Homo sapiens: one gene and its partners. The protein of the gene in region 5 purifies or fractionates together with the protein of the main gene of each other region. This does not show direct contact. Each region holds a gene or a part of one and is shown on either strand. Other genes may lie near its edges. The genes, in order: FBXO11, ITPR3, MSMO1, DRAM2, SLC35F1, ATP13A3 and LAPTM4A.

Region 1 (4,700 bases), on a different chromosome or scaffold from region 5:
ACCCAGGCTGGAGTGCAGTGCCACGATCTCAGTTCACTGCAACCTCTGCCTCCTGGGCTCAAATGATCCTCCCACCTCAGCCTCCCAAGTAGCTGGAACTACAGGCACATGTTACCCAGGCTGGTCTCGAACTCTGGAGCTCAAGTGATTTACCCACCTCAGCCTCCCTAAGTGCTGGGATTACAGGCGTGAGCCACCATGCCTGGCCGAAAATTAGTTTTCCTGCAAAAATTTTCACAATGTAACTGCGTATGAAAATTTGTCCACACAGAACAACAAAAAGTTTCAATTTCCTTACAAACTGTTTACTCAGGAAGGGGAAAAAAAGTTATCCTTACTGTAAAAACATCATGATTATCACTTAAAAAGATAATTTTCTTTCTTTTTCTTTTTGAGACAGAGTCTCACTCCCGTTGCCCACACTGGAGTGCAGAGGCGTGATCATGGCTCATTGCAGCCTTAACCTCCCAGGTTCAAGTGATCCTCTTGTCTTATTTTTTGATTTTTTTTTGTAGAAATGAGGTCCCAGTATGTTGCCCAGGCTGGTCTCAAACTCCTGGGCTCAAGTAATCTGCCCACTTCAGCCTCCCAAAGTGCTGGGATTATAGGCGTGAGCCACTTCGCCTAGCCTAAAAAGATAATTTTCAGTAAAAATACTTTGAACTTAATTTGTCCTATATCTTCAGTCCATTTATATCCTATCAAGCACAATGAAATCTTCAAACTGGAGTAATGGCTAACTATTATCATTTCTGGTACAGTGAGCAATGCTGTTTTGTTCTGCTGCTCTTCATTCTCATTTCTCCTTTGTAATTTTTCTCTTAAATGTAAGGTGTGGGCCGGGCACAGTGGCCCATGCCTGTAATCCCAGCACTTTGGGAGGCCCAGGCAGGAGGATCACCTGAGGTCAGGAGTTCAAGACCAGCCTAGCCAACATGGTGAAACCCTGTCTCTACTAAAAATACAAAAAATAGCTGGGCATGGTGGGAGGTGCCTGTAATCCCAGCTACTCAGGAGGCTGAGGCAGGAGAATTGCTTGAACCCGGGAGGCAGAGGTTGCAGTGAGTCAAGATTGTGCCACTGCACTCTAGCCTGGGCAACAAGAACGAAACTCCGTCAAAAACAACAACAAAAACATATATATATATGGTGCACCTTTTGTGCATCATAAAAGTAATACATATAACCGTTGTAAAACAAAGAAGTGTAAAGAACTATAGTTTCAATATATTAACTATTAACAGTCTGCCATATTTGCTTCCACTCATTTTATCTACAGATCATTTATTATAGTTGTGATTATATAGCATATACAATTTTGTACTCTGTTCTTTTCTTTAAAAAACAGGGTCTCCGTCTGCCGCCCAGGCTGCAGTGCAGTGGCACGATCACGGCTTTCTGCAGCCTTGACTTCCTGGGCTCAAATGATCCTCCTGCCTCAGCCTCCGGAGTAGCTGGGACCACAGGCAGGAGCCACCACACCTGGCCTCTTTTCACTTTTTATAACAGCATTTTTTTCATCTTATTAAAAACCTGGGCTGGGTGCAATGGCTCATGCCTATAATCCCAGCACTTTGGGCGGCCGAGGTAGAAGGATCACTTGACCCCAGGAGTTCAAGATCAGACTGAGTAACAGAGTGAGACCCTTTGTCTCAAAAAAAAAAAAAAAAAAAAAATTAGCTGGGCATGGTGACACATGCCTGTGGTGCCAGCTACTCAGGAGGCTGAGGTGGGAGAATGGCTTGAGCCCAGAGGGTTGAGGCTGCAGTGAGCTAGGAGCGTGACACTGCACTCCAGCCTGGGTGACAGAGCAAGACCCTGTCTCTCAAAAAACAAATGAAAATCTCTTTGTAAAAATTACTATTAGTGGTTATATCACAACTCTCCAAGTACACATTACACAGTTTATGTAGTTCATTCCCTTAATTCTGGATATTTAGATTATTTATAATTTTTCTCATTATTAACTAGGCTGTTACGAAAAATCTGTACATAAAGCAAAAAAAACTTTTCAGAAGTAGAATTACTGGGTCAAAGGGCATGACCCAGTAATTACTGGGTCAAAGGGCATGAATTATTTAAAGATTCATGAATACAACTGTTTTCCAAAAGTGATATATAAAACCTACATTCTAATCTATCAGATTTAAAATTCATTAGCTATTTTAAATTACACTGTTATGTTTCTAAAAAGCTACTAAAAGAAAAACATTTCCCATAATCAATCAGTTGCTATTAACTGATAAACAGCAGATAAAAGACTTCATTTACTGATTTATAAATACCACCTGGACTGACAGCCCCCATTTGTAACTTGGAATTGATAAGCATTTTAATTTTGTTCCAACTAATTGTAACTACCAACTCACCGCACCGACTTTCCTACCATGTTTAGCATTTTGGGCAACAAATAACATATCTCAAGTTAATAAGGAATAGGTTTTTACTTACCACAAAATTGGATCATTAGCAAGTTCACTGAAGCGTTTACATACACAAGCTGCTCTACAAAGATCCTGTTCCAGCAAGTAAGAGAAGATTTTTAGAACCACTTCATCTGGCAGTTTCTCCTGAAGATACTGTTCAGCAGGTGCTGCTATAAAGAGATTAACATATAAACTATCATTCGAGCAATAACTTTCTCATTATTTAAAGAACACAGTTTTCATTTTATCTAATGAATAGCTTTTTTTTTTTGGATAATGGTCATTTTATAAGCATGTGGGTTTCATGGGTAACACATATTTATCTCTATCCTGAACTAACAAAAGTACTCCTTCTTTTAGGTATTATGTGCCATCTCAGAAATGGTTAAAATAAATACATAAAAAGCATTTTTATACAACAATAAAAGTCAGAGGGAGAGGTCAGGGTTCTAAAGTTTATTCTGTAATAATCACTTTCTGAATCCCAAAGGTAATACTCGAATACACTTAATTTTCATTTTTTGGTATCAAGCAAAATTAAAAAAAATTATTTTACCCTATTTGTTACTTTCCCACAGGAAATACCTGATAGATCTTGTGATTTTCCAGACACTCTTGCACGTTTTGCACGATGACCAAAGTTTTCTGTAGTTGAAGTTGAGGCGCCCTTCAAAAACAAAACAGAAACTAGTAAAGCAAATATTCTTATCATCCATAATCATTACTTCTAAAAAAGGATGACATTCCCTTTTTTGTTTCTTGAAAATTCTTTCATTACAAAAAGAAAAGCAACTACAGTTAAAGTTACCTCCATACTGTTCTTTGTGGGACACGCTGTTCTTTTCGGCAAAAGAGTTTTTCTACGAAGTTGGTATGGACTATTTTGTGCACCAGGACCTGATTCTTCTGCAACCATATCTGCAGGCACATCATCATCTGTTATAAACAAAAGCAATAAGAAAAATTATACCCTTTTTAAAAAAAGTTCTATGGATACAGAAAACTTTCTTAAAACTTCAAATTCGGGAGGGAGCAGATGTAAGTTTTATATGAAATTCCAACCAACTGGATAGCTATATGAAAGAAATGTTAGATTTCTATAAAATGTGGAAGATTTTTTTTTTTTTTGAGACAGAGTCTCGCTCTGTCGCCCAGGCTGGAGTGCAGTGGCGCAATCTCGGCTCACTGCAAGCTCCGCCTCCTGGGTTCACGCCTTTCTCCTGCCTCAGCCTCCCGAGTAGCTGGGACTACAGGCGCCCGCCACCACGCCCAGCTAATTTTTTGTATTTTTAGTAAAGATGGGGTTTCATCGTGGTAGCCAGGATGGTCTTGATCTCCTGACCTCGTGATCCACTCACCTCGGCCTCCCAAAGTGCTGGGATTACAGGCGTGAGCCACCACGCCCAGCCGTGGAAGACTTTTTTTTAAAAAAAGGTGAGGAGGATATCCACTTGCTGAGAGGAGTGGGAAGGGAACTGGTACTACATGGTTAGAGACCATATATGGTGAAGGCAGCTTGGCAAGGAGTGTGTCTATGAAGAGGAACGGCTCAATATAGTGCATGAGATACCAGGTAGGTTAAAAAGGGTGTCAGAGGGTAGTCTGGTGTATGAACATCTTTTTTTTTTTTTTTTGGAGATAGGGTCTCATTCTGTCACCCAGGCTGGAGTGCAGTGGCCCGATCACAGCTCACTGCAGCCTCAACCTCTTGGCCTCAAGCAATCCTCCTGCCTCAGTATCCCAAGCAGCTGGGGCTACAGGCATGCACCACCACCCAGCTAACTAAAAAACAATTTTTTTTGGTGAGATGGGGTCTCACTATATTGCCCAGGCTGGTCTCAGACTCCTGGGTTCTAGCAATCCTCCCACCTTGGCCTCCAAAGTGCTTTCAACAGAGCACGGCTGCAGTGAGCTATGATCACACATCTGCACTCCAGCCTGGGTGACAGAGCAAGACCCTGTCTCAAAATCAGTCAGTCAATCCATCCATCTATGAGTTCATAATAATACTTTAAAAATTAAAAAAAAAAAAAGATTATTTGAAAGATGCTAGTGGAAACCAACCCATCATGTTGAAAACTTGTAAATAACACAGTGGCTCAAGCCTGTAATCCCAGCACTTTGGGAGGCCAAGGTGGGCGGATCACGAGGTCAGGAGATCGAGACCATCCTGGAAAACACAGTGAAACCCCATCTCTACTAAAACTACAAAAAATTAGCCTGGTGTGGTAGCGGGCGCCCGTAGTCCCAGCTACTCAGGAGGCTGAGGCAGGA
Region 2 (3,588 bases), about 84 Mb from region 5:
CTTGGTGGTGATTAAGGGAGCTGTGCTTCCTGCTTCCTTGGAAGTTAAGAGTCAAAGAAGGAATGATTTGTAAGTGCTGTAAGTAATCAGTCCAGCAGCTTCAGCGTCACCAGGAAGTTTGTCAGAAATGCAGAATCTCAGACCCCGTGCCCGTCCTACTGAATGAGAATCTGCATTTTATTAAGATCCCCAGGGGACTGGTGCATTAAAGTGTGAGGAGCGTTGCTCTGAGTGATTTTCTCTCTGCCCCATCCTCCTCAGAATCCTTCTGCCTCCTTTCTGAACTCTGGTCCCCTCTGCTTTTCCCGAGGCTGTTGGTGCCCATGTCTGTGAACCCATAGGCTGATTTGACTGAATTCCTGGGCTAACCCAGTGCCCAGTGTGTGGGCCCCAGGAGGTACCCAGTAAGGGCTGGATAAAAATGAATGTGTTGAAGGCAGGGGTGGCCTTGGTGGGCAGATGGGCCAGGTCACCTGGGAGATGGGAAGGGGGCATTAGTTGGGGAGGGAGGCAGAGGCAGCATTCAGATTCTGGCCAGAGCTCTTCAGTGCAAAGTGGACGAGGCCAATTAGAGCCTCCTGGAGAATTAGAGGTCCTAGTGAAGATTGTACATTAACTCTAGGTGGGAAGGATGGGAGGGATCTGGGTAGTGGATCCAGGAGCGGTTGAGACTGCCAGCCGGCCAGCAAGGGAAAGCAGGCCCACGCCTGTTCTTGGCAGGAGAGCAAGGCCAATGCCACTGCTTTATCCCTTACCCTAGGTGGGAGCAGCAGAGGCCAGGGATGGAGTAGCTGATTAGGGCCAACAAAAAGTGGAGGATTGAATGTGGCCTCAGGCCAGTGGCTAGGGAGAACTGGCCTTGGGTACACAGGGTGGACCCATCAGGATCTCAAGTCATCTCTTGAAGATCTCTTTTTTTTTTTTTGAGACAGAGTTTCACTCTTGTTGCCCAGGCTGGAGTACAATGGGGCGATCTTAGTTCACTGCAACCTCAGCCTCCTGGGTTCAAGCGATTCTTCTGCCTCAGCCTCCCGAGTAGCTGGGATTACAGGCATGTGCCTCCACACCCAGCTAATTTTGTATTTTTAGTAGAGACTGGGTTTCTCCATGTTGGTCAGGCTGGTCTCAAACTCCCGACCTCAGATGATCCGCCTGCCTCGGCCTCCCAAAGTGTTGGGATTACAGCCGCGAGCCACTGTGCCTGGCGAAGATCTCTTATGAGTACCCAGAGAGGTAGCCCCAGACCCACAGAAAGTAAACTGGGGGAGTGCAGGTGAACTGGGTCTTGGAGCTGAGCTTTCAACATTTGTCAAAGTGCCTCTGCCCACCCATGGCTCAGCCTTGGAGCCTATTTGGAGCTCTCAGGGCCTCTGGACCTGGATCACCCAGGGCTGGGTAATCATAGTGAGTAGGAGATGCTGCCTCTTACCCATGGGATTCTCTGTCTACCTGCCAGCCTGACCTGCTTCCCTGGAGGTCAGGACCCAAGAAGTATGGGGGTGAATATAGACGAAGCCCCAGGTCTCCAGGCTCAGGATCCCTAGGTCGGAAACCTCAGAGGCATAGCTCTCAGGAAGGGTGTCTGTCTCATGTTCCATCACCAACTTGTTGGGTGGTTTCTGTTTTGTTTTGTTTGAAATGGGGTCTTTGTCACCCAGGCTGGAATGCAGTAGTGTGATCTGGGTTCACTGCAGCCTTAATCTCCCAGGCTCAAGCAATCCTTACAACTCAGCCGCCCGAGTAGCTGGGACTACAGGCGTGTGCTACCGCATCTGGCTAGTTTTTGTATTTTTTATAGAGATGGGGTCTCCCCTTGCTGCCCAAGCTAATCTAAAACTCCTGGGCTCAAGTGATCCTCCCTCCTCTGCCTCCCAAAGTGCTGGGATTACAGGCATGAGCCGCCGTGCCTGGCCGTTGCTGGATGCTTTGAACAAGGCCCTGCCTTCTCAGAGTGAGTTTCCGTCAGCCTGCATTATCCTCTATGGTGCTCTGGCTGTACCTGAGAATCACCTGGGGATTAAAAAAAAAATTTCAGCTCCCAAGTCCCATGCCAGACCAACTGAATCACCATCTCTAGGGCTAAGGTCTGGGTGTTAGATTTTTAAAAAGTTCTCCAGGTGGTTTTAATGAGTACCTGGGGCCGGGATCCCTGATCTGGGGGCCCTCCCAGGCTGACAGGCTGTGAGGAAGCCTGCCTGCTAGGTCTACCTGCCCCTCAGCCCAGAAGGCCCATCTCTTTGCCCTCATCAGACTTCATAATGTCATTCAACAAACATTTATTAGGCATCTACCATGTGCTAGGCAAGGCACTGTTTTAGGCACTGCAGAATCAGTGGTACCCAAGGCACAGGTCCAGCTTGTTCCGTTCTGTGCAGTGGGGCCCTTTGAGCCTTAAGTCTGAGACACATGTAATTCCAGGAGCAGGGGACTGCCTTTCCCTCGCTGATAGCATTCCCTGGGTGGATTTCAGACCTGTCTTGGCTTTCTTTCTTTTATTTTTTTGGAGAGAGTTTTGCTCTTGTTTTCCAGGCTGGAGTACAATGGCACAATCTCAGCTCACCACAACCTTCGCCTCCCAGGTTCAAGCGATTCTCCTGCCTCAGCCTCCCGAGTAGCTGGGATTACAGGCATGTGCCACCACGCCCGGCTAATTTTTTTGTATTTTTAGTAGAGATGGGGTTTCTCCATGTTGGTCAAGCTGGTCTTGAACTGCTGACCTCAGGTGATCTGCCTGCCTCGGCTTCCCAAAGTGCTGGGATTACAGGCATGAGCCACTGTACCCGGCTTGGCTTTCATTTAATTGTGATTTCATTGGAAGAAGATGTTAGACTTCTGTTCTGTACCTCAAGGCAGATTCTTGGTCTTAGCCTAATCCATGCAACTCATTTTTTGAAAATATATATATTTTTTCAGATTAAAAAAAAATATACATTCCATGGAGAAAATGTGAAAAACTCAAAAAAATGATCTGTAATACCACTATGGCTTACATGAACATTCCCTATGACCTTCTAGCCTTTTATATTCATAAATGAACATTTACAAACAATATCAAACTGCACGTATGGCTTTGTACCCTGTCCTTTTTTGCATATATATAGTGAGCTGTATTTTCCCATGCCAACACACCATTGTTATGGCTGCACAGCCATGGTATGCTGTACCTTAATTTATTTAAGCAACTCTAGTATTCAACATTCAGGCTCTTTGTAAATTTTTGCTGTTAAGAACAATTTGCCCTGAACATCCTAGTGCATGCATGCCTGAACACTTGTCTAGTTATAGTTATCCTCTCAGGTAATACGTTCCCAGAAATGGAGATCAAAGACAAGGTACACCTTTAACTCTTAGGCTGTCTAACTTTTTGTGTTTCTGTGGTGGTGGAGGGGTATAGGAACAGAACTTGGTGCCACAGAGGGTCAGACATGATTCATGTCATGTGTGAGTGTTGCACTAGCATGTGGGGAGTAAGACCAGCCTCTGCCCTCAAGGTTAGGTACTAGGCACTTCCCAGGCAGTGCGAGGATGTGATGGAGAAGGGATGAAGTGGAGAGGGGGTGGCGCGGGGTTGGCTCAGCCTAGAACCAG
Region 3 (4,198 bases), on a different chromosome or scaffold from region 5:
TGTTGGCGGATACCTGAATTTTTCAGCAGTGACATTTAAAACAAAGCAATAACTGATATTTATTGTCACCATCGTTTTGTTAAGCCCAAAGCACTTTTTTAAGTGCAGTCCTATAAATTGAATACATTTAGTTAGTGTTTGTTTTGTTTTGCTTTGTTTTTTATAATGACTTGCTAAGCAAATGGGTATCCTGATGAGGTCTTAACGAACATCCCATGTTGATCTAACTTTTCTCATTTTGACTTGAATCTGTGAACTCCATAATCAGGACATATCTGTGTACTTCTCAACTCAGAGAGTTTATAATTCTGTCATTGGATTTGAACAAAAGTGCATTTATTTGTTGGAATGAATACCACTGAGTGCCTGGAAGCATCGACTTACTGTGTAAAAGGCTTCCAATGCTTCGTATACAACTTCTTCAATTGTGGACACCCAACAGTAATCTTAGCATATTATATTTCTTCTTCTCTGAAACTTCTGGTAAAAGAAGTGAAGTGAATGATCTGTGGCAGCAAAGACTGGAGAATTATTCATTCCATAGTGTTTCTTAGTTTGTTTGAGATCATCATGGCTAGGCGCATCTGTTAACAGTTTCTTCACCTGAAGTAGTGATAGTAGTTGTCAAGAATTTAGAAGGCAAAGATTCCTGAGTCTTAGTTATATAAAGTTAACATAACTGACGTAGAATTAAGGTCCAACATAAACAGAGAACAAATTAGGTCAAGTTAAACTCTGATAGCAGAGACTAATATTAGATATTGTGATTTTTCTTCGTAGGATAAGCCAGAGACATGGGAAAACCAATGGAAGTGTTTCAAAGTTCTTCTCTTTAATCACTTCTGTATCCAGCTGCCTTTGATTTGTGGAACCTATTATTTTACAGAGTATTTCAATATTCCTTATGATTGGGAAAGAATGCCAAGATGGTACGTAGATAAAAATTTGGCTTTTACACCCAATTGTGGCTTATTCAGTTAAGTTATACTTAATGTTTACCCGTTTTCTTAATTTTAGTTAATGTTTGTTCTAAACTTTGGAAGTAAATAAATAGTAGAAAAGTAAACCACAGTAAAATCTTAAAATGTTTCCATTTTTACATCTTTTAAATATTTTATTGGAAGGTGAGCTTCTAGTATCAGAAGTTTCCATAACGTCTTTTGTATGTTTATATACATGTATAAGTGCTTATGTTGACAAAAATATATTACATTTTAATTTTAAAATGAATGAAATATATGAGAATCATTTATGAGGTTTATAGAAATTGTGTTTACATGAACAAAAATATGTATGTGTATATATATATATATATATATATACACACATATATATATACACACACATATATATACTCATGCGTCACTTAACGGATATCTCTTGAGAAAAGTGTCATGAGGCAAGTTGTGTGAACATTGTAATGAAATGAAATTGGTCTAATGGGCAGTCTCTTTAACCTTATATCAAGTTATGTAGCTGTATCTGGTGGTTTTGAGAATTTATTTATGAATATATCCAATTAGGTCAACCTGGTAAGTGGGTGGGTGGTTTTATGTAATGTCTCAAGCAGTGATCCCAACTAAAAGTCTGGATAGTTTAAGTAAAAATTATTTCTTACACATTACAACATTTTTATCTTAAAGGTATTTTCTTTTGGCAAGATGCTTTGGTTGTGCAGTCATTGAAGATACTTGGCACTATTTTCTGCATAGACTCTTACACCACAAAAGAATATACAAGTATATTCATAAAGTTCATCATGAGTTTCAGGTATGTGAGAGTTATATTTAATTCTTTCTGTTAGAGGCAAAATGTCTATTTTAATTGCCTGAGCATTTTTCTAAAATTGTTGGTGACGTTTTTATTTTCTTTTCCTTTGGCATGATTATTAAGAACAATACACACACATACAAACAAGCCATTTCTACACATTGTTTTCATTATTTAAATTTCATGGTAAATTGAGATCTGAAAGAAAAATATTATATGAAAGTTCGGACTTCCATCCTTGTGGACAGTGCTACACTGGCACAGCTAGATCCTCACATTGCTAACTCCCACAAAAACAGTAACTTCTATGAGCACTGCTTTTTTTTTTTTTTTTTTTTTTTTTGAGATAGAGTTTTGCTCTTGTTGCCCAGGCTGGACTGCAATGGCATGATCTCAGCTCACTGCAACCTTCACCTCCTGGGTTCAAGCAATTCTCCTGCCTCAGCCTTTCAGGTAGCTGGGATTACAGGCATGCGTCACCACGCGTGGCTAATTTTGTATTTTTAGTAGAGACAGGATTTCACTATGTTGGTCAGGCTGGTCTCGAACTCCTGACCTCAGGTGATCCACCCGCCTTGGACTCGCAAAGTGCTGGGATTACAGGCGTGAGCCACCATGCCCGGCCAATTAGAATTGCTTTGATGTAGCTTTGTCAACTGGTTATGTGAGTATGTTTTGCATTGACCGTGATTACATGGTGTGCCAAATCAAGCCTCTCTTTATTAGAAGAACAAATATAAATACTTAAGTCAAAATTAGAGTTCAAGTCAATTATTTAATGCCTTTATCTTAAACCATCAAAGACAGCAAGATTTTATATCCCTAGACTTTTGATGTGGAGTAAGGTATTTTTATTGAGAATTGCTAGTATTATTTATAAGTGTATGACTAGATAAATCATCACTACATATAGAATCAATATAACTTTGTAAAACTTTATGCATAAATAGGATATATATATTAGTGAAGTCTCCAGTGAAGCAGAATCATTGGGGTATATATATGCAGAGAGAGATTTATTTTAAGGAATCAGCTCATGCAAGTGTGCGGCTGTCAAGTCTGAAATCTGTAAAGCAGGCTACAGACTAGAAATCCAGGTAAGAATTGTTGCAGCCTTGGGTCCAAATTCCATGGAGCAGCAAGTTGGAAACTCAGGCAGGGTTTCAGTGTTGCAGTCTCGAGAATCCTTCTTCAGGAAACCTCAGCCTTTTATCCTGAAGGCCTTCAAATGATTGGATGAAGCCCACCCTCATTATGAAGGGTAATCACCTTTACTCAGTCTACTGATTTAAATGTTAACAACATCTAAAAAATACCTTCACAACAACATCTAGACTGGTATTTAATCAAACAGTTGGATATCATAGCCTAGCCAAGTTGACACATAAAATTGACCATCACAATAGCTAAGAAATTAAGAATTTCTTATCTGTTTGTCTTAGGCTCCATTTGGAATGGAAGCTGAATATGCACATCCTTTGGAGACTCTAATTCTTGGAACTGGATTTTTCATTGGAATCGTGCTTTTGTGTGATCATGTAATTCTTCTTTGGGCATGGGTGACCATTCGTTTATTAGAAACTATTGATGTCCATAGGTGAGTATTAATTTCTGTTCAGGTATAAAGCATAATGAAATATATTTATTTTCATGGCCATAAGATTATCATATTTCTAAGGAGACTAATAGGAGAAGTTAATCTTCTTAATGTTATATTAAGAAAACATAACTGTTGGATAAAAGTTTAAATAATAGATGTTTTTACATTCTAGCCTATGCTGTTATAATTTTTATAGTGATAATGTGTTATTAGGGCAAGTATATATTCAGGACCAGCAATTTCCTTATCCTTCTGTAATAAACCTAAACTTAACTCATATTTGAAAAAAATATCAAAGCATTCAGCCTTCCTTGAATAAGACTTTCTAATCTCTACTGTTCAGCACTGATAAAGGCACTTGCAAGATGAAACTACTACTTGTAACACATACATATTTCAAATGCATCCTTTCTGTTGATTGGAAGACATTTTGTGGTAAATTATTTATATTGAATGCCTTCTTAAATGCTTATCCTAATTGTTCATTATTTTTTAATTATATGTTCATTGCATTTTGACTTGGGACATACTTCTGTACTCATGAATGCAGAATATCAAATTCTAAGAATTATTTTTAAAGTGCTAAAGTAGCAAAATTAATGCTTCTAGTCCTAGGCAGAGAATATTCTTCTGTAGAAAAATTGTAATTGACATTTCTTTCTTTTTTTTTTCTATCCATTGTTTCTTTCTGCCTTCCTTCCTCTAAGCTCCTCAAAGGAAGAGAGGGTTAGAGTGATTCAAATAAGTATAACTGGATGTCTGATTGTAGATATGTAGTTGGAAATAAAGGAGCATACTTTAAATGGGACTCTTTTTTGAAGCCATTTG
Region 4 (3,216 bases), on a different chromosome or scaffold from region 5:
TTTTATGGTTTGTATCCAAATTATTTCTAGCAATGTCAGCATTTAGTCAATCAATGCTTATGGAAATGTCTCCCAGGTTTATTGCTGTTTAATATAGGCATAGTATTTTATTCCCTTTCTGTCTTATTAGTCCAGAAGACTTCAGAAATATTATTTACTGATTCTTGTATCTAGCAACTAATTTATAATTGAGGTCTCCATCACATAAGCATTATTCCTTGAATTGCTCCAACTGACAGTTTAAATGTTTTCTCCCCACCTTTTCTTCTGGCCAGGGAACCATCTCTTCTAAAAAGATAAAAACCTGATTAATCTTCTTCAAAGATTATTCTGCAAACCAGTTCATCACTGGGCACTTTCCAAATGAGCATTTTTTTCTTTTTAATTTCAGCAGGGATCTGTAAACTATTCTTTACCTGTACATACAGAGATCCAAGGAGAAACAATCCAATCATTTGCATACCCAGAAAAAATGAGAACACTGTTTTTGTAGATGCATGTATCACACTTATTTTGCATGTAGTTTAATTGGATTGCCAATTTTGTTCTTTAGAATTTGGGCTCTACAAAGGTTACATCCTATTAAAAAGGCTCAATATTTACCTGTTCAAGACTACTTTTACATGTAATTATAACTTGCCATAAATGAAAATCTAAGAAGCTCTTGAGTATGGTTATGACTTTTATTAATCATATCTGCTGTTATTCCCAAACTTCTCAATGTTACATGAATACTAACCCTTGTTTTATATAAAATATGACTAAAGTAAATTTACCTACAGGTGCCTCTCTCCTTCATTGGTGATTAAAATTTCACGCCAGAGACTAAACTTCATGAAACTACTGCAAGCATGTGTATGATAGACCAATTAGCTTAGTATCTGGCATTGTGGCCAGAAAAAAAAAAATCGTTACCTACAAAATCTCTTGGGCAACACTTAAGCCATGGAAGAGCCCACATGAATCCAGGTCTACTTTCCTTTACAGGTAGATTCCAGAACAACAACAAAAAATGTAAGACTACAAGAAATGATTTAATATGATAAAACTCCCATTTCAAAACCCAGTTCTAAAGGATTTACTGACTAATGCTGATTATTTAGTCATGGAAAATGTCTCTCATAAAAGTGCTCCTAACAAAACATGATCTACAATAATTTATAAAATGTGAAGGGTTGGGATGTGCAGACTGATTGGTGCACGTCAGGTTGTTTCTCTTAAATAAGGTATAAAAAACTATGATATCATAGTCTTTTGACTTTATTTTCTGAGATAAAAAAGTATAGGCATAGGTGTTTTTAATAGTCTTCTTGATGATATCCTTTAGAATAATCTATCAAATGGCTTCTTTCATGTTTCCTGATTATCAGCATTCATCAGTGTTACTGTCAGCCTTGATTAAGTGGTTGAAAATTTCAGAGAAGAATAAGCAACTTCTGTGAACCTTTCCCCAATCCCTGAGAATCATAATCATTACAGAAATATTTTATCCTTTCATCAAATATCTCTGGAAAGTAGCCGTGTTCGTTCATTGTTAATAGGGCAAGGTGCAGTGTCATAGAGGGTTAATCCATGTAAATTGGCTTCCACCCGTAAAGAAATTTTCTGGAACAGAAAAGAAAATTATATATAGAAGTTTGCTCCTTAAAGAGAGATCACTCCTTCAATATGTTCTATAGGCTACCTTGTGATTATGAATGTAAATCAATTCTAATGGTAGTGAGACAGCTGTTTTACTGTCAAAGGTATCCTCTTTGTACCAATTAAAATCTGGAAAAACCAAGCTTCTCAATTCATAAAGTTCCCTGTTTTTCTTTGGTTTCTACTAAGAATCAGTAAAACTAAATGTTGAGAATGACCTATGTAAAAGTACACAGAATCGATAACAAATTCTATGTAAGAATTTCTGAAATTTATTTTATAGCCCCATTTTCAAGGCTAAATCTTGCTAGCAATACACTACTTCTTTAAACACAGAAACAATTCACCTGAAAAGTTACATCACTTGTTTATGATACCAAATCACAAACAGTTAATTTTCAAAAAGGCGGGAGAGTTGCCTATGGAAAGTTCTCTTAGTCTACCTTCCTGGACTAAGAGAAGGAAGTCTGACTGAATAAATCTAATATTGTGCCTTCTTACCTGAAAATCACGAATGTAAGTCAGGAAAAAACCAAAGAAGGAAAATGACATAGACCATTCTGCTGCAGTAGTGATCATGTGAAGCACATAACCCTGAGTGATGGGAAAAAAAGAATAGTTTTGTGAAATTTCATTTAAACGATCTATATACTATGTTTCAAATAAAAAACACACAATTCTTATAAAATAATGGAGCTTCTGAAAATCAACCCTTGACTTACCAGGCATATAATATCTCTAGAATTAAAGAGCCAGCATTAGGAAATCCTCCTAAATGACACTCTATTTGTTTCACTGGGAGCGAATAAAATTTCCAATTAAATAGCTAAGATAGAACAGGATCATTTTTACTCTACAATCGAGAAATTACTATTGCCTTACCCAAAGCCATAAGATTCATAATATGCAACTAAGAAAAGTTTAACAATGCTCAGAATAAACTTAGTAAGTGCTGTGTTTACGATATTAAATAATATATGGGTTACAATTGGGAAAATCTAGTAAATTATTTCATTCATTCATTTTCACAAACATGCCCAATTTGGGGCTAATTCTTATATAAAACACCACCAAGTGGTTTGTGAAAACAGATGAACTCATTTTATTCTTTAGTATATGTTCCTCTTCCTCTATTCTCAGAGTCCCAGATGTTATATCTACATTCAGATATCCACTATATTGAATCCTAAATGCAGAGTCCATAATCAATTTCCAGATAACAAAAAGTGGGAGAAGATGTCTTTTCAATTCAGAAAACAAGTATTCAAAACATAAATGATCTCGGTTGGCTATATTATATACTATACCCACATTTAGGGGAGTCAATTTCTCAGAAAACTCTTCTGCCATCGCAATGCTCTTCATATTTTGACAATATCTACAGATCACAGGTGACAGGAGAATATGGAAGGTTCTACATAAACCCTACCATATCAAGAAAATAATTTTAATACAGAACTGATTATTCTACCAGAAGACTTTCATTGTTACTGATGAAATGAAAAACATATCAAGATCAATCAAAATAACCATCTTTAATATAAAACTAAGTTTATAGACTGTAAGTTCTTACTT
Region 5 (4,700 bases):
ATGGGGTAAACATAGGCAAATGAAGTTGAAGTCATGCTACGTTATGGGTAGAACCTTGTGTTTCTAATGAAACGATCTGTGACATGAGTTGTACTAGTCCCAGTGTATAGAGGAGGAACTTATACTTATGTTGGGTTGACGGCATTTCATCGCAGGTATACAACCGTGAATGGAACCCTAGGTTTGTAGCCTTTAGACTTAAGCTAAAACAATTATTTATTTATTTGTCTTTCAAAGTTATTCAAAATTTTCAATATAATATTTTGTATTGAGTAACTGGCTTTTCCTTATCCTTAAAGGATAAGAAGAAACTCTTTGTTTCAAGAAAGAACATTTTTAGTAAGGAGACTGAAAAATCTGAGCAAGTTTTAAAATCTCAATGGCATAATTTATTTAGCATGCTGATGGGCTTGGCTTTTGTGCCATAATTATGTCAATGAGAGCCTTAATAGTGGCTATAGAGTGATTAGGCTCTAGGTAAAAGTGAGAGTATGGGGGAGAGTGAATTTTTGAGATTCTGCAGAGTGCTTGGATGTGGCTCCCCTCTGGTTTGAACCCTCATGATGTGTTGGACTAGTCAGTAATGGATATCAGGCAGGCCCATTGGGGCCTAATCATAAGCATCTTTGTCAATTTTCTAAGAACTCACCATCTGCTTACTTTCTCCTTTTTTGCTTTCTTCTTTTCCTCTTCCTCCTTCCTGAATACTTCACCCACATTGCCCTGTCCACTCATTGTCTTCATTTGTCTTCTTTCCTCTACCCTTGGCATGCAGCAACTTAGCTCCTAGCAGAAAGTGGTTCCAAATCGGGAAGCTGGGAGCCAATATAAAAAATATCCCTCCAACTTTTGACATGCAGATATATGGTTAGCAGCATTCTATTGCTGTGGGCTGGTAGGGCTAGTCTCTTCAGTGACTGAAATGGGGGCTGTACCACTGTCAGCTCCTAGCATCCCACTGGGCCAAAGGGGTAATGCTGAGACACAGAGTGGTGCAATGGGACGAGAAATATTAGACTGTGAGCAAGCCAAGCCTGGCGAATTGCCTGCCATTGGTCACAGTCTACAGGAACAGCTATCTGACAACCCAGAGGAAGAACTGCAAACACATACGCTATCTATATCCTGTCTACCCAGGGAGAGTTAAAGAGAGAATTGCTCATCAATAATTAATTAAAGGTACTTCTTGCTCTCAAGAAGCTTAGAATGAAATATAGTGTTATCTTAATAAAATCTGCCTTACATTATTCAGCATCATTTTATTTCCATAGTATACTCCATAGCCTCTCCCCTTACTCTAAAGGCTTGTCGAGTTGGATTGCTGCATTTTGTACACAACAATTGGGGTATTTCATTGGTTGACTACTCCCTTTCTGTGAAACAGTTAGATTAGAATGTAATTATATTCAAGACTTGGTGAAAGAGGAGGCACTAGATAATTTTTTAAAATAATTAATGGGACATCACATTTTTTCCCCTGGTATACTCAAAATTGTTTTGGCAAAAGGATGCAAGAAACATGACAATTTAAATGCTGGAATAATTACTACTCCTTTAATATTCAAAATTGTGAACCAATCAATATATTGATTCAAACAAGGAAAAAATACGGCAAAGTCTTCTTCACATTTCCCTCCCCTCCCCTCCCCTCCCCTCCCTCCCTCCCTCCCTCCCTCCCTTCCTTCCTTCCTTCCTTCCATCCTTCTGGCAGGATCTTGGTCTGTTGCCCAGGCTGGAGTGCAGTGGCATGATCACAACTTATTGCAGCCTTGACTTCCTGGGCTCAAGTGATTCTCCCACCTCAGCCTCCCAAGTAGCTGGGAATACAGGTGCACACCACCATGCCTGGCTATTTTTAAAAAATTTTTAAATTTTTAGTAGAATCGAGGTCTCGTTCTGTTTCCCAGGCTGGCCTCAAACTCCAGGCCTCAAGTCACCCTCCCACCTTGGCCTTCCAAAGTGCTGCAATTGCAGACATGAGCCACTGTGCCTGGCCTTCCCTTATTTCTTAGCATGGTATAGTATATATTACCCTGCCACAGGCAATCAGAAAATGACGAAAAGAAAATACTTCAAGGGCAACAGTTGATGACCCTCTCAAAGAAACTGCTGATCAGGTAGATTTCTTAGACACATACAGGAGTAGCTACTGACCTACATATTAAAGTGCCTGAAGATTTTGTACTCTAAATGATTTCTTAATGAAATGTTTTTGAGAAATGAGTGATAGCTTGTTTTGTGTTTTGCATATGTGTGCTTTTATCTTTTCCCACATGAGTATTATTTTCAGTTGTTAACAGAAATATCTGTGAATTTCTTGTTTTGATACACTTTCTTCCCATTAAGACATACAGTGGGTTGTCTCAAATTATAAAGGGGTTTCTGCCTCTTTGAGTCTTATGGCGGGAATGTTTAATCATTAGAATGGAATCACTACTGATTCTGACTCATCCATTCATTTGATTTAGAATGAACTGATTTCCAACTTATATTTAGATTTATTTTCAAATTTCTGAAACCTTTTTGAATATAAACCAAAGATCGTTAAGGATATACATAGAAGAGTTTGAAGCAAGCCTACATAAAATCAATGTCCAAGTAGGAAACTTACCATGTAAAATGGGACAATATGTGTACATAGCCTTTCTGAGTCATTAAATAAGGTGGACAGAACATCATGAACCAATGGATATGACTGAACTCTAGGTATTCCATACAGTTGGTGGAAACATATAATTTAGATGATCCTTTCTGATCAAGTGAGAAGGCTTTTGTTAGGAAATTAATGGTGAGAATCTTCCTCAAGCTGCTCCGTCTAAAACATGTCAAAATGAAAAGAGGAAGATCAGCTAGTAATGAGGTTGATTAATATAAAATATTCCAAGTGGAACTGGGTGGTGTGATTAAAAACAGACTTTTCTAAGATCAGTAGTAAAGAAAAGATGTCTGAAGGGTGCATTTGTTTTTAACTAAAAGGACAAAATTATAAAAATAAATGATTATACCAGTATACTTGTATTTATGCCCAGTGCTTGGAGAAACTAATGTTCACATTAAAGGGATATTTGGATTACCTCAGATAAAGATGATGTGTTTTCAGGTAATTAACGTGTATTAAAATATACTTGTCTTTGTGTGATTTTCTTTGAACTTTTACTTTCTCAAAATCCTTCAGTGTCTTAGGGGCATCTTAACTGATGTCTGTTTTCACTGTACACATCTATAGATGTAGAAGGTATAGGCAATTGAGCTGCTGCTCATATCGCTCATATAGCTCTAAAGTTACTTAATGCAAGAGATGTTTTATTATGTAGTTGCCATTTCTCATAAAAATAATATGGAGCATGTGAAAGTACCACCACCAGATTTTAGTTTAGCTTGCTTGTTCATTTGCGTTCAGGCCAATGAGCATGCCCTGTACATTGTTCAGACACATTAATTCTTGATTATGCTTCTCAAGAAGTATGCTTAGGAAGACAAACTTCAGTAGATGTATGGAAAAAACCTATGAATTTTGGGCATGTTTCTTAATGGTAACATGAACATATACAGGTCTATATTCATTTATTCTTAAGCAGTAACTGTATGCTGAGCCTTCTTATGGAATACACACATGTGACGAAACATTATTCTTGGGCCAAAACCTCAAAACCTAACTGGGAAACTTGACATGTGTATCACTATTTAGAATGAACGTTGTAATTCATAATCTGAATTGTTACACATAATGCCTAAATAAATGCTTCCCAGTGTCTAGATATTGGAATAATGTAAATGAGCTGTTCAATATGCAATGCGTATTAACCTTGTTCTGACACTTTGGAATTATACAGGGAATCCTTGAATGTACAATAGTTAAGAAGGAATTTCACAAGAAATGTCAAAGAAAACAATAACAATAAATATTCTTTAGGAAGTATTTTCTTAGAAAAAATGTTAGTGGCAACTCAGTTAGTTAGTGGCAACATGAGTATAATTTTTTGAATTATATTATAATTTAAGTTTTAAAAATATTGTTTCAGCCAGGGGCGGTGGCTCACAACTGTAATCCCAGCATTTGGGAGGCCAAGGTGGGAGGGTCATCTGAGGTCAGGAGTGTGAGACCAACCTGGCCAACATGGCGAAACCCCATCTCTACTAAAAATACAAAAATTATCTGGGCGTGGTGGTATGCGCTTATAGTCCCAGCTACTCAGGAGGCTGAGGCACGAGAACCACTTGCACCCAGGAGGCAGATGTTGCAGTGAGCCAAGATCACGCCACTGCATTCCAGCCTGGGCAACAGAGTGAAACTCCATCTCAAAAAAATCCCCCCAAAAACAAAAACAAAAGAATCCTATCTATCTATCTATCTATCTATCTATCTATCTATCTATCTATCTATCTATCTGTCTATCCACATATATACACACACGTGTATATGTGTGTGTATATATATAGAGAGAGTTTCTATTAATTTAAATTCTAAACTTTGTCTGAAGAATATTTACTATGTGACTCTCTGAGGATTAAAAAAAAAAAAGCCCTTAAATATAGTTTTGCAAGTTCCGAGATTATAAGCCACCAATTCCTAATAAATTCCATTTAAAAAAATAGAGAAACCTACTATAACTGAACAAACACTGAATAGATTTTTAAAACCAAATCATACTAATTATATACAGATTTAGAGTGACAGGGCTACAATTTGTGATCATATC
Region 6 (4,700 bases), on a different chromosome or scaffold from region 5:
TAAAGTTCTTATTTCCAACATCACTGAGACTGAGAAAAAAGACAGAATAAAGATAAAGTTCCATAGGGCGTCCCCATCACTGCTTATTCTCACTGAGTTTGACCATTGAGTAGGTTGTATATCCATAGTAATATGATATAGTGCCTATGTCCTAAGATTACTATTTATCTTAGGAATAAAGCATATTCATATTCTAAAACCTCATATTCACAGTAGTTACAAAACCACCACGTTATACAAGCATAGTTTGATTCAATATATGGAATGGAAGAAGGAAAGAAACCATTATGTGCCAGGAAAAGTGCTCCTTTCTTTACATATGGTCTCAACTAATCCTCAACACTTTCAGGTAACAATATTCTTCTTTGTTAAAAAAAAAATTAAAGAAGTTAAGGAGCTTACAGTATAAGCGACTTTGAAGACAGACAGAAACCTAGCTCTGTGTTAATGTGCTTAACACAGAGGTTTCTGTCTCTGGGTTTATAAGGTTAGTTGTATGTGACTAGGCAACATAACATCTCTGAACCTCAGATTCTGGTGATAAATCAGATATGTCATCTTAATAGGTGTCACACACTAGATCACCTTCTTTTAGCACACAACTGTGAACTGTTTTGACTGTTTTCTTTGATAGGTGATAAGCTGCCAACTCCTATTCCATTTATCATCCATTCAAATATAGCTCAGTTTAACTCTTAGATATGTTGTACTCATCCTTTTCTCCCTTCTCTCTCCCTCCTTAGAATCACATTTCTTATTTTTTAAAGTTTTAAAAACATTTTTTAATACTGCTTCTTGCAGAACAGGGCTGCTCGATAGGCAGTGTGCCTGGAGTAGCCAGAAGAAATTAGAAATTAAATTTCTTCTTGGTGTTACCTCTGAATGTATTCTGAATATGCCATATCTCATCTGGATCCAAGAGGTAGCTGATGGGATTTAGCCTTGGTTTTGGAACATAGTTTTTGTGAAAATGAAGCTAATTGGCCTATGGAGAGAGTAAATCTGTAGTCGTCAAAACCATGTTGAGTTTTTTTGAGATAGGGTCTTGCTCTGTCTCCCAGGCTGGAGTGCAGTGGCTCTGTCATGGCTCACTGCAGCCTTGACCTTCTGGGCTCAAGCAGTCCTCCCACCTCAGCTTCCAGAGTAGCTGGGACCACAGGTGTGCACCATCACACCCAGCTAGTTTTTTTTTTTTTTGTAGAGGTGGGTTTTCACCGTGTTGCCCAGGCTGGTCTCAAACTCCTGAACTGAAGCAGTCTGCCTGCCTTGGCCTCCCAAAGTGTTAGGGTTACAGGCATTTATCACTGCACCCCGTCCTTTTTTCTTTTTTTTTCCCCCCAGAGAAAGAGTCTCGCTCTCTCACTCAGGCTAGAGTGTAGTGGCACGATCATGGCTCACTGCAGCCTTGAGTTCCTGGGCTCAGGCGACCTTCCTGCCTCAGCAACAAGGGTAGTTGGGACAACGGGTGTGTGCCATCATGTCTGGCTAATTTAAAAAAAAATTTTTTTTTTTTTTTTGAGACGGAGTCTTGTACTGTCATCCTGGCTGGAGTGCAGAGGCGCGATCTCCGCTCACTGCAACTTCCGCCTCCTGGGTTCAAGCGATTCTCCTGCCTCAGCTTTCCGAGTAGCTGGGATTACAGGTGCCCACCACCATGCCTGGCTAATTTTTTGTATCTTTAGTAGAGACTGGGTTTCACCATGTTGACCAGTCTGATCTTGAACTCCTGACCTTGTGATCCGCCTGCCTCGGCCTTCCAGACTGCTGGGATTACAGGCGTGAGCCACCACGCCCGGCCTTTAAAATTTTTTTGTAGAGATGAGTATCTCGGTTTGTTGCCCAGGCTTGTCTCAGAACTCCTGGCCTCAAGTGATCCTCCTGCCTCAGCCTCCCAAAGTGTAGGAATTACAGACATGAGCCACCTTGCCCAGCCAAAACCATGTTCTAATTAACCACTTAAGTTCAAATAGCATGCAAGAAGCAAGGAAATTGTTAGGTTCTCGTTTGAGTTTTGTTGAACATCATATTTTGAGAGTAGAGAAGTAAGAGAGGCTCAGATTTCTGGCACATAATTTTAATTAAGATTTAGGTTTAAAAAAATGAAAAAGTTCTGGGCTCAAATTAATCTGGAGAAAAGTAGATATTTGTAAGGTAGAAGAAGGTCCACAGTTAATCAGTTATCACTAGATAACTAGTGATTATAAAAGGAGTTAAAACGATTTGTGTTAGTAGGTTATGCACAGTGACTCATGCTTGAAATCCCAGTGCTTTGGGAGGCCAAGGCAGGAGGATGGCTTGAGGCCAGGAGTTTGAGACCAGCCTGAGTGACAAAGCAAGACTTTGTCTTAAAACAACCAAAAATAATTTGTATTAATCAGGTTAAAAATAGAGGTAAAATGAGATGACATGAGTAAATGGTAATTGGAAAAAATGATCACTGTTATGATAGTTTAAAAAATGACTTTATGGTAATCAGTAAGAAGGGAGAAAAACGGAATAAAGGAGAGAACTGTCCAAATAAGTGTCTGACACTGAGGAAGGTTGTTTGAGGATGGTGATTGCTGAAAAGTTTCCATAAAATGATTCTCTAGAGGGAACTATGCCAATACCATATCTGTTAACATCTTAGACCCACAGGGTCATATTGGAACCTTTGCTAGAGTCTGAGATGGTAAAACATTAACTCGAATAGTAAACGTCAAGACCGCAAAATTAATCTGTTAATCAGAATTTTGTCTTTTTTGTTGATTCTTACACTTACTCCCTGTGGATCTTGGTTTTAAATGATCAATTGACACTCAGAGACTAGTTAGATAAGAAATTAAATTTCCAGAAAAAGTCACTTAAGTATGTAAAGTAGAATTTCCTAATTATGTGGTCTGGAAATTGCTGATGTCTACAGAATCTTTCTCAAGTTTGAAGTAAAAATACTTGTAACTGATGTTGGGTGGTAAGGTGAAAGATGGTTCTAGCTCAGTGAGTTTTTCTTATTTTTTTTTCACAAAGGAGTTGAACATTGAAATAAAGAGGTGTGAGACTGGAAAATAATGCGGAGAGATCATGGATTATTTAGATTAGTGCCTTTTTAGAGAAGAGGAAAGTGAAGTAAGTGACAGCATAAAGGATCCTTTATGGTCTAACCCCAGATCCTTTCTCTAGCTTGGGTGTTCCTTTCACCCTTGCTTTAATTTTGTACTCTGTAGTAATGGCACATCTCAAAACTTTTGCATTTTTTTTTTCCAGTGAGAGCCAACTTTTAAGGGTTGCCTTTGCTTGCTTGACAGACTTCTTGAAACAAACTATTTTTAGTTTGTTTAAAATGAGTCATGGAATTGCTCCCACATATGTGTCTAAGGGTGGTTTCTTCATAGCATCCCTGTTGCTCTGTTTTTTTTTTTTTCCATTTGTGAAATAGGATGAAATATATTTTAGTTATTTATTTTGATATAAAAGACAAGTGTTTTGGGTCCTGATTTTTTTCTGATTGATCTAAAGAGCTGAATAAAGTGCAATCACTGCTCATGGGGCCTTTGGGCCTAAATTCTCAGATAAAAATCCTGTGTAGTCAAAATTACCCTTGGAAAAAGTCTTTTAAAAAGGCACCAGTTTGAAAACTGGTTGGAAACTGACATTCTGTCTTTCAATTCTAGTGTCCAGTTTTTCCTGTAGTTTTAGAGAGGTCCCTTTTTTGGTGAGCTGGAATCCTCACCAGCTGTGTGAGACCGTTTTGACAGGTGAATGGGTCTTAGATTGACTGAGCATAGCGGATTTATAGTCTTCATTTCATGCTCACTCTGGGACAGGGATGTAAAGGAAGGCATACTATCATCATTATTCAAATTATTTTTCTCTGTTGCTTCCCCCCAGAGTGTAAGTAGTTGAATTGGTTTTAATTAAGTGCATATATGATGTGACTCCACAGTGTGAATAATGGAGAAATAACTTAGGTATTTATGAACATCTGCTATCTCCGTAAGGTTATGCCACAAAAAGATCTAGTATAATTAAAAGGCTAGGTAATAAAGTTGAGAATATTAGGAGATTATTGGTACTGTCTGTCATTCTGAGGGGATACTCAACTACTTTGAGTGTTTTTGTTTTGTTTTTTTAAAGAATAAATTTATTCCTTACTGCTAGCAAGATCTGCATTGTTTTAAAAGAGCGATGTAAATTATTAATGGATTCCATGAAATTTAAAGTATCTAAACTTAAGTATTACTCTGGGGATAGCACAGTAAGAAAACATGAGTATGTAAAAACATGATGGTGGCTAAAAACTTAACAGTCTTATGTCCTGGGAGAGGGCATGGTGTATTGGATAAAAATGTGGGCTTCAGAGCCATAGTGATTTTGAATTACAGCTCTGTCACATACCAGTCTTGTAGTCTGGGTTAAGTAAGTCACTGAACCTCTGAGAGCTTTTTTATTTGCCAGATAGAGGTGATAAAGGGTACCTTAGAGAATTGTAAGGATAAGAGTCTGAGTGAAGGGTAACTTATTATTTGTTAACTTAGTAACATTGAAGATATTCAAAACAAGTCAGATGTGTGTGTGGGGTGTGATTGATGATTGCTCTTTGTTTTTTTGTTAACTGGAACAGCAGGCAATAATGTTATATTCAGGCTTTTTATGTCCAAAACAATCTATGATTTTGTATCTTTAGTAGCAACATCCTCAAAAGCTCAAGATGTTAACCTCAT
Region 7 (4,700 bases), on a different chromosome or scaffold from region 5:
CTTGTTTCTAACAAAAACAAAAAACCTCAGTACAACTTCAGGTTGCATTAATTGAAATTCGTTAGCCAGAATATGAGAACTGAGATCCCATTATGTTCTGACCAGGGTGACTTTACCTCATTTTAATATATGTCCATCAAACTGGAGCATGTGTAAAGAGGAAGACAAAAGGGAAATAGGTAGCTAGGAAACATGCTAGTCAGAGGAATGGCTTAAAGATCTGCATGTCTATTCTAGAGAACACAGTATTTGGAGGCTGTTTTCAGGTATTGGAGCACTTATTTAGAAGGGAGAGCACATTATCTCAAAAGGTAGATTTAAGGCCGGGCGTGGTGGCTCACGCCTGTAATACCAACACTTTGGGAGGCTAGGGCTGGGTGTATCACTTGAGGTCAGGAATTAGAGACCAGCCTGGCCAACATAGTGAAACCCCGTCTCTACTAAAAATACAAAAATCACCCGCGTATGGTCGTGGGCACCTGTAATCCCAGCTACCAGGTGGCTGAGGTGGGAGGATCACATGAGCCTAGGAAGGGGAGGCTTCAGTGAGCTGAGATTGCACCACTGCACTCCACCCTGGGCAATAGAGTGAGACTCCATATCACACACACGCACACATACACATACACACACACACACAAAAGTAAGACTAGTAGATAAGTGACTTTCAGTATCTTGGTAAGTCTCTTAAGCATTTGAGTCTAGCTCTAGAGGAAATAGTGAGTTCTCTGTCACCTGATGAGAGATGCTGTGGAGGGGTTTCGGGCATCTGATGAATAAATATAACAGATGAACAGTAACTTCTTCAAATCCAGAAATTCTGAGATTGGTATATGAATAAATAGGTAGCTTCGAACATGAACCATTTGTAATGATTCTTTAGTTTTAATTTTTTTCTGGTGTATTGGTTAAGCATCTTATCTCTCAAATGGTTAATATTACTTATACTTTATAAAATATTTATTTTTAAATTATTCTCATAGTGGTAATTGCGTATTGTTTTATCTCACAGGTAGTCTCCCACTATTTTATATCTTTGTTACTTCAAGTAAGACAATCTTAAATATGAGAGGACATCTAGAGATTGTGCTAAGATTGCGTCGTGATGGTAATTAATGTAACTGATAGAATGTTATCTTTTCCAGGTAGTAAACCTATTGATGGCAATTTTGCTGACTGTGGAAGTGACTCATCCAAACTCCATGCCAGCTGTCAACATTCAGTATGAAGTCATCGGTAATTACTATTCGTCTGAGAGAATGGCTGGTATGTGTTTAATAGAAAAACAAAAAAATCTCCCCTGCTAATTTTTATATACAGTCCTGTGTTGTTTAATGATGGGGACACATTCTGAGAAATGTCACTGGGTGATATTGTTGTGTGAACATCATAGGGTGTACTTACACAAACCTAGATAGCGTAGCCTACTATACACCTAGGCGATGTGGTAGAGACTCCTAGGCTAAAACCTGTACAGCAGGTTACTGTACCGAATACTGTAGGCAGTTATCATACAGTGGCAAATAGGTGTGTATCTAAAGATGGAAAAATATAGTAATACTGTAAATACACTATTACAGTGTTATGGAACCCTCATGATATATGCAGTCCATTGTTGACCAAAATGTTGTTGGCCCATGTCTGTCTGTCTCCACACACACTGGTTATTTAGGGGATTGATTAGATTATGCTTAAGTTACATTTCAGAAAGTTAAAATGGTTACATAATAAGGGTAACAAGTTAAATTATATTTAAGTCATTCTTGCTGAGGCAGGAAAGTATTTTGATGGGTTTTTCAGAGAGATTCAGTGAGGATTACAATAGAGCATTTCTAGCCAGAAAATGTAATGGACTATTAAGTTTTTGAGAAATGTGTAAAATGTACCTTGAAATCAAAATAAGCATGCAGGCTTCATAAGACTTTTTTTTTAATGTAGCTACTAGTAGAAAGGAGAAGTTGCTATGGTTACAATATATGTGTCCCTCCAAAATTCACATGCTGGAGCTTAACCTCCAAGGTGATGATATTAAGAGGTAGGACCCTTGGGTGGTGATTAGGCCATGAGGGCTCTACCCTTATGAATGGGATAAATGCCTTTCTTTTTTTTTGAGACAGAGTTTTGCGCTTGTTGCCCAGGCTGGAGTGCAGTGGTGCGATCTCGGCTCAGGGCAACCTCTGCCTCCTGGGTTCAAGCGATTCTCCTGCCTCAGCCTCCTGAGTAGCTGGGATTACAGGCACACACCACCACACCCGGCTAATTTTTTGTATTTTTAGAGTTACTCCATGTTGGTCAGGTTGGTCTCGAACTCCCGACCTTAGGTGATCCACCCGCCTCAGCCTCCCAAAGTGCTGGGATTACAGGCGTGCCACAGCGCCCAGCCAGCGCCCTTCATTTTTAAAATCACATTTATATTATTTATTTGTTTAAAAAAAGTTTTTTAGAGAAAAGGTCTTACTTTGTTGTCCCAACTGGAGTGCAGTGGTACAGTAATAGCTCACTGTAACCCAGAATTCCTGAGCTCAAGTGATCCTCCCACCTCAGCTGCCTGAGTAGCTAAATTTTTGTGGAGATCGGGTCTCCCTGTCTTTACCAGGCTGGTCTTGAGCTCCCGGCTTCAAGGGACCCTCCCACTTCAGCCTCCCAAAGTGCTGAGATTACAGGCATGAGCCACTGTGCCCAGCCCATAGCAGACTCTTGAAAGCCGATTATTTGAATTACAAATTTTGCTTTCAAGTTTGATAATACCTGTTTAATTTCATATTTTGTTTTTACCTGAATTCTTCTAAGTGGAAGTTTGCATGTTGTAGCAGGGAAGTCCTTTAAATTCTTAACATTTATCAATCCTGTATCCTCTAAGAAAAAAGTAAAGAGGACTATTCCTAGTTTAGTGCCAAATATTGATGAGGTTTTACTGCCCAGTGATAAATTATATATACATGCTGTGCATGGTGGCTCATGCCTGTAATCCCATCACTTTGGGAGGCCGAGGCAGGTGAATCACTTGAGGTCAGGAGTTTGAGACTAGCCTGGCTAACATGGTGAAATCCTGTCTCTATTAAAAATACAAAAATTAGCTGGGCTTGGTGGCGCAGGCCTGCAATCCTAGCTACTCTGGAGGCTGAGGCAAAAGAATCTCATGAACCTGGGAGGCAGAGGTTGCAGTGAGCTGAGATTGTGCCACTGCACTCCAGCCTGGGTGACAGTGAGATTGTCTCAAAGAAAAAAAAAAAGTTGTATATACATTTACCCAATAGGGAATATTCAGCAGTTGTTCTAGTCATTCATCATTATTAGTGCCCTCAGTATTTTTTTTCTTTTTTCATTTTTAAAACATCTTTTGTGCATACAGGGTCTTGCTATATTGCCCAGGTTGGTCTTGAACTCCTGGCCTCAAGTAATTTTCCCACCTTAGTCTCTCAGAGTACTGAGATTACAGGTGTGGGTTGCCGTGCCCATCCCCCCCAGTTTCTTAATCTCTGCCCAGACGGATCACCTGATGTTGGGAGTTTAGACCAGCCTGGCCAACATGGTGAAACCTCGTCTCTACTAGAAATACAGAAATTAGCTGGATGTGGTGGTGCTTGCCTATAATTCCAGCTACTTGGGAGGCTGAGGCAAGAGAATCACATGAACCTGGGAGGTTGAGGTTGCAGTGAGCCGAGATCGCGCCACTGCACTCTAGCCTGGGCGACAGAGCAAGACTCTGTCTCAGGAAAAGAAAGAAAAAACTGTCCAGAGTCACAGAATCAACTACAGATTTGTGCTAAGAAATTCAGTAAGTCAGGCACGGTTTAGAATTGCTTGAGATTACTTGGCTGTTTTGTGAAAAAATTAGTGAACATGGATTAATGGAGAGTTGGAACAACCTGAGGAAGAGTTGAGAAACGAAGAAGAAAGTAGTGTGTGTTAACATAGATACCAGGGTGCAGGAAGCAATGAATTTTGGTGTTTGGGAGGTTGGGTGGGGAAGTGAGGTTAATGGCGAAATTTGAATTTCAGGTTATATTTATCTAGAGCAAAGGGTAATGTATGTAGCATTCTGAGTTTAATACACTTGTCTTTTAAGCAATTGCCAGCCATTCCTTCCAGCTAAACCCTACTCATAAGACCCATCTTGTGTCATTTCTTCATATTTTTTCCTGATGCTTCAGGCAAAGCAAATTGTTTCTGCCTCTGTTGTAGCACTTGACACATTGGATTATAATGATCTGTTTGCACATCTTCAGATTCCTGGGCTCATAAGGGCACAGGGACCTGTTTCTCTAGCAGAGAATGTGGTTCATGTGCCATCCTACACCCATGTCAGTGAGTCGTTGGAGCGATTTAACAAATAAGTGCTTTGTGTGAATGTCTCAAGGTTCCTTACTTCATGCTGAGACTTTGATTTTTTTTTTTTTTTTTTACCCTCTTGGCCTTAGATCTTTTTATAGCCAATTTTGAAAATATTTAAATTTAATATTTTAAAGCTAGCTTTAAGTGAAGTTTTGTTCTTTTTGTTGTGTAAGTAGCTTAATTAGATTTTTGTTTTTGTTTTCTTAGATAATGCCTGTGTTCTTTTTGCCGTCTCTGTTCTTATGTTTATAATCAGTTCAATGCTGGTTTATGGAGCAATTTCTGTAAGTATACTGTATTTTCATCTTTTAGAGTTTGACCTTAGGGGAGCTTAGTAATTTCCTATATGTGATACAATGTTATGG

What was found.
Region 1: the proteins of SLC35F1 (region 5) and FBXO11 purify together in Homo sapiens (affinity purification with mass spectrometry; one large-scale study listed by BioGRID and IntAct). This does not show direct contact.
Region 2: the proteins of SLC35F1 (region 5) and ITPR3 purify together in Homo sapiens (affinity purification with mass spectrometry; one large-scale study listed by BioGRID and IntAct). This does not show direct contact.
Region 3: the proteins of SLC35F1 (region 5) and MSMO1 purify together in Homo sapiens (affinity purification with mass spectrometry; one large-scale study listed by BioGRID and IntAct). This does not show direct contact.
Region 4: the proteins of SLC35F1 (region 5) and DRAM2 purify together in Homo sapiens (affinity purification with mass spectrometry; one large-scale study listed by BioGRID and IntAct). This does not show direct contact.
Region 6: the proteins of SLC35F1 (region 5) and ATP13A3 purify together in Homo sapiens (affinity purification with mass spectrometry; one large-scale study listed by BioGRID and IntAct). This does not show direct contact.
Region 7: the proteins of SLC35F1 (region 5) and LAPTM4A purify together in Homo sapiens (affinity purification with mass spectrometry; one large-scale study listed by BioGRID and IntAct). This does not show direct contact.

What each region holds. Positions count from the first base shown.
Region 1 is NC_000002.12:47,836,408-47,841,107, forward strand, and holds part of FBXO11 (F-box only protein 11), read right to left. Parts: intron 3,363-4,700; coding exon 3,235-3,362; intron 3,094-3,234; coding exon 3,012-3,093; intron 2,597-3,011; coding exon 2,452-2,596; intron 1-2,451. UniProt on the Homo sapiens protein: Substrate recognition component of a SCF (SKP1-CUL1-F-box protein) E3 ubiquitin-protein ligase complex which mediates the ubiquitination and subsequent proteasomal degradation of target proteins, such as DTL/CDT2, BCL6, SNAI1 and PRDM1/BLIMP1.
Region 2 is NC_000006.12:33,624,322-33,627,909, forward strand, and holds part of ITPR3 (inositol 1,4,5-trisphosphate-gated calcium channel ITPR3), read left to right. Parts: exon of another isoform or gene 1-69; intron 70-3,588.
Region 3 is NC_000004.12:165,337,009-165,341,206, forward strand, and holds part of MSMO1 (methylsterol monooxygenase 1), read left to right. Parts: intron 1-780; coding exon 781-929; intron 930-1,643; coding exon 1,644-1,770; intron 1,771-3,212; coding exon 3,213-3,367; intron 3,368-4,198. UniProt on the Homo sapiens protein: Catalyzes the three-step monooxygenation required for the demethylation of 4,4-dimethyl and 4alpha-methylsterols, which can be subsequently metabolized to cholesterol.
Region 4 is NC_000001.11:111,116,663-111,119,878, forward strand, and holds the end of DRAM2 (DNA damage-regulated autophagy modulator protein 2), read right to left. Parts: coding exon 3,215-3,216; intron 2,236-3,214; coding exon 2,143-2,235; intron 1,606-2,142; coding exon 1,498-1,605; 3' UTR 501-1,497; downstream 1-500. UniProt on the Homo sapiens protein: Plays a role in the initiation of autophagy. In the retina, might be involved in the process of photoreceptor cells renewal and recycling to preserve visual function. Induces apoptotic cell death when coexpressed with DRAM1.
Region 5 is NC_000006.12:117,909,750-117,914,449, forward strand, and holds part of SLC35F1 (solute carrier family 35 member F1), read left to right. Parts: intron 1-4,700. UniProt on the Homo sapiens protein: Putative solute transporter.
Region 6 is NC_000003.12:194,479,924-194,484,623, reverse strand, and holds part of ATP13A3 (polyamine-transporting ATPase 13A3), read left to right. Parts: intron 1-1,525; exon of another isoform or gene 1,526-1,642; intron 1,643-4,700. UniProt on the Homo sapiens protein: ATP-driven pump involved in endocytosis-dependent polyamine transport. Uses ATP as an energy source to transfer polyamine precursor putrescine from the endosomal compartment to the cytosol.
Region 7 is NC_000002.12:20,037,457-20,042,156, reverse strand, and holds part of LAPTM4A (lysosomal-associated transmembrane protein 4A), read left to right. Parts: intron 1-1,145; coding exon 1,146-1,266; intron 1,267-4,542; coding exon 4,543-4,619; intron 4,620-4,700. UniProt on the Homo sapiens protein: May function in the transport of nucleosides and/or nucleoside derivatives between the cytosol and the lumen of an intracellular membrane-bound compartment.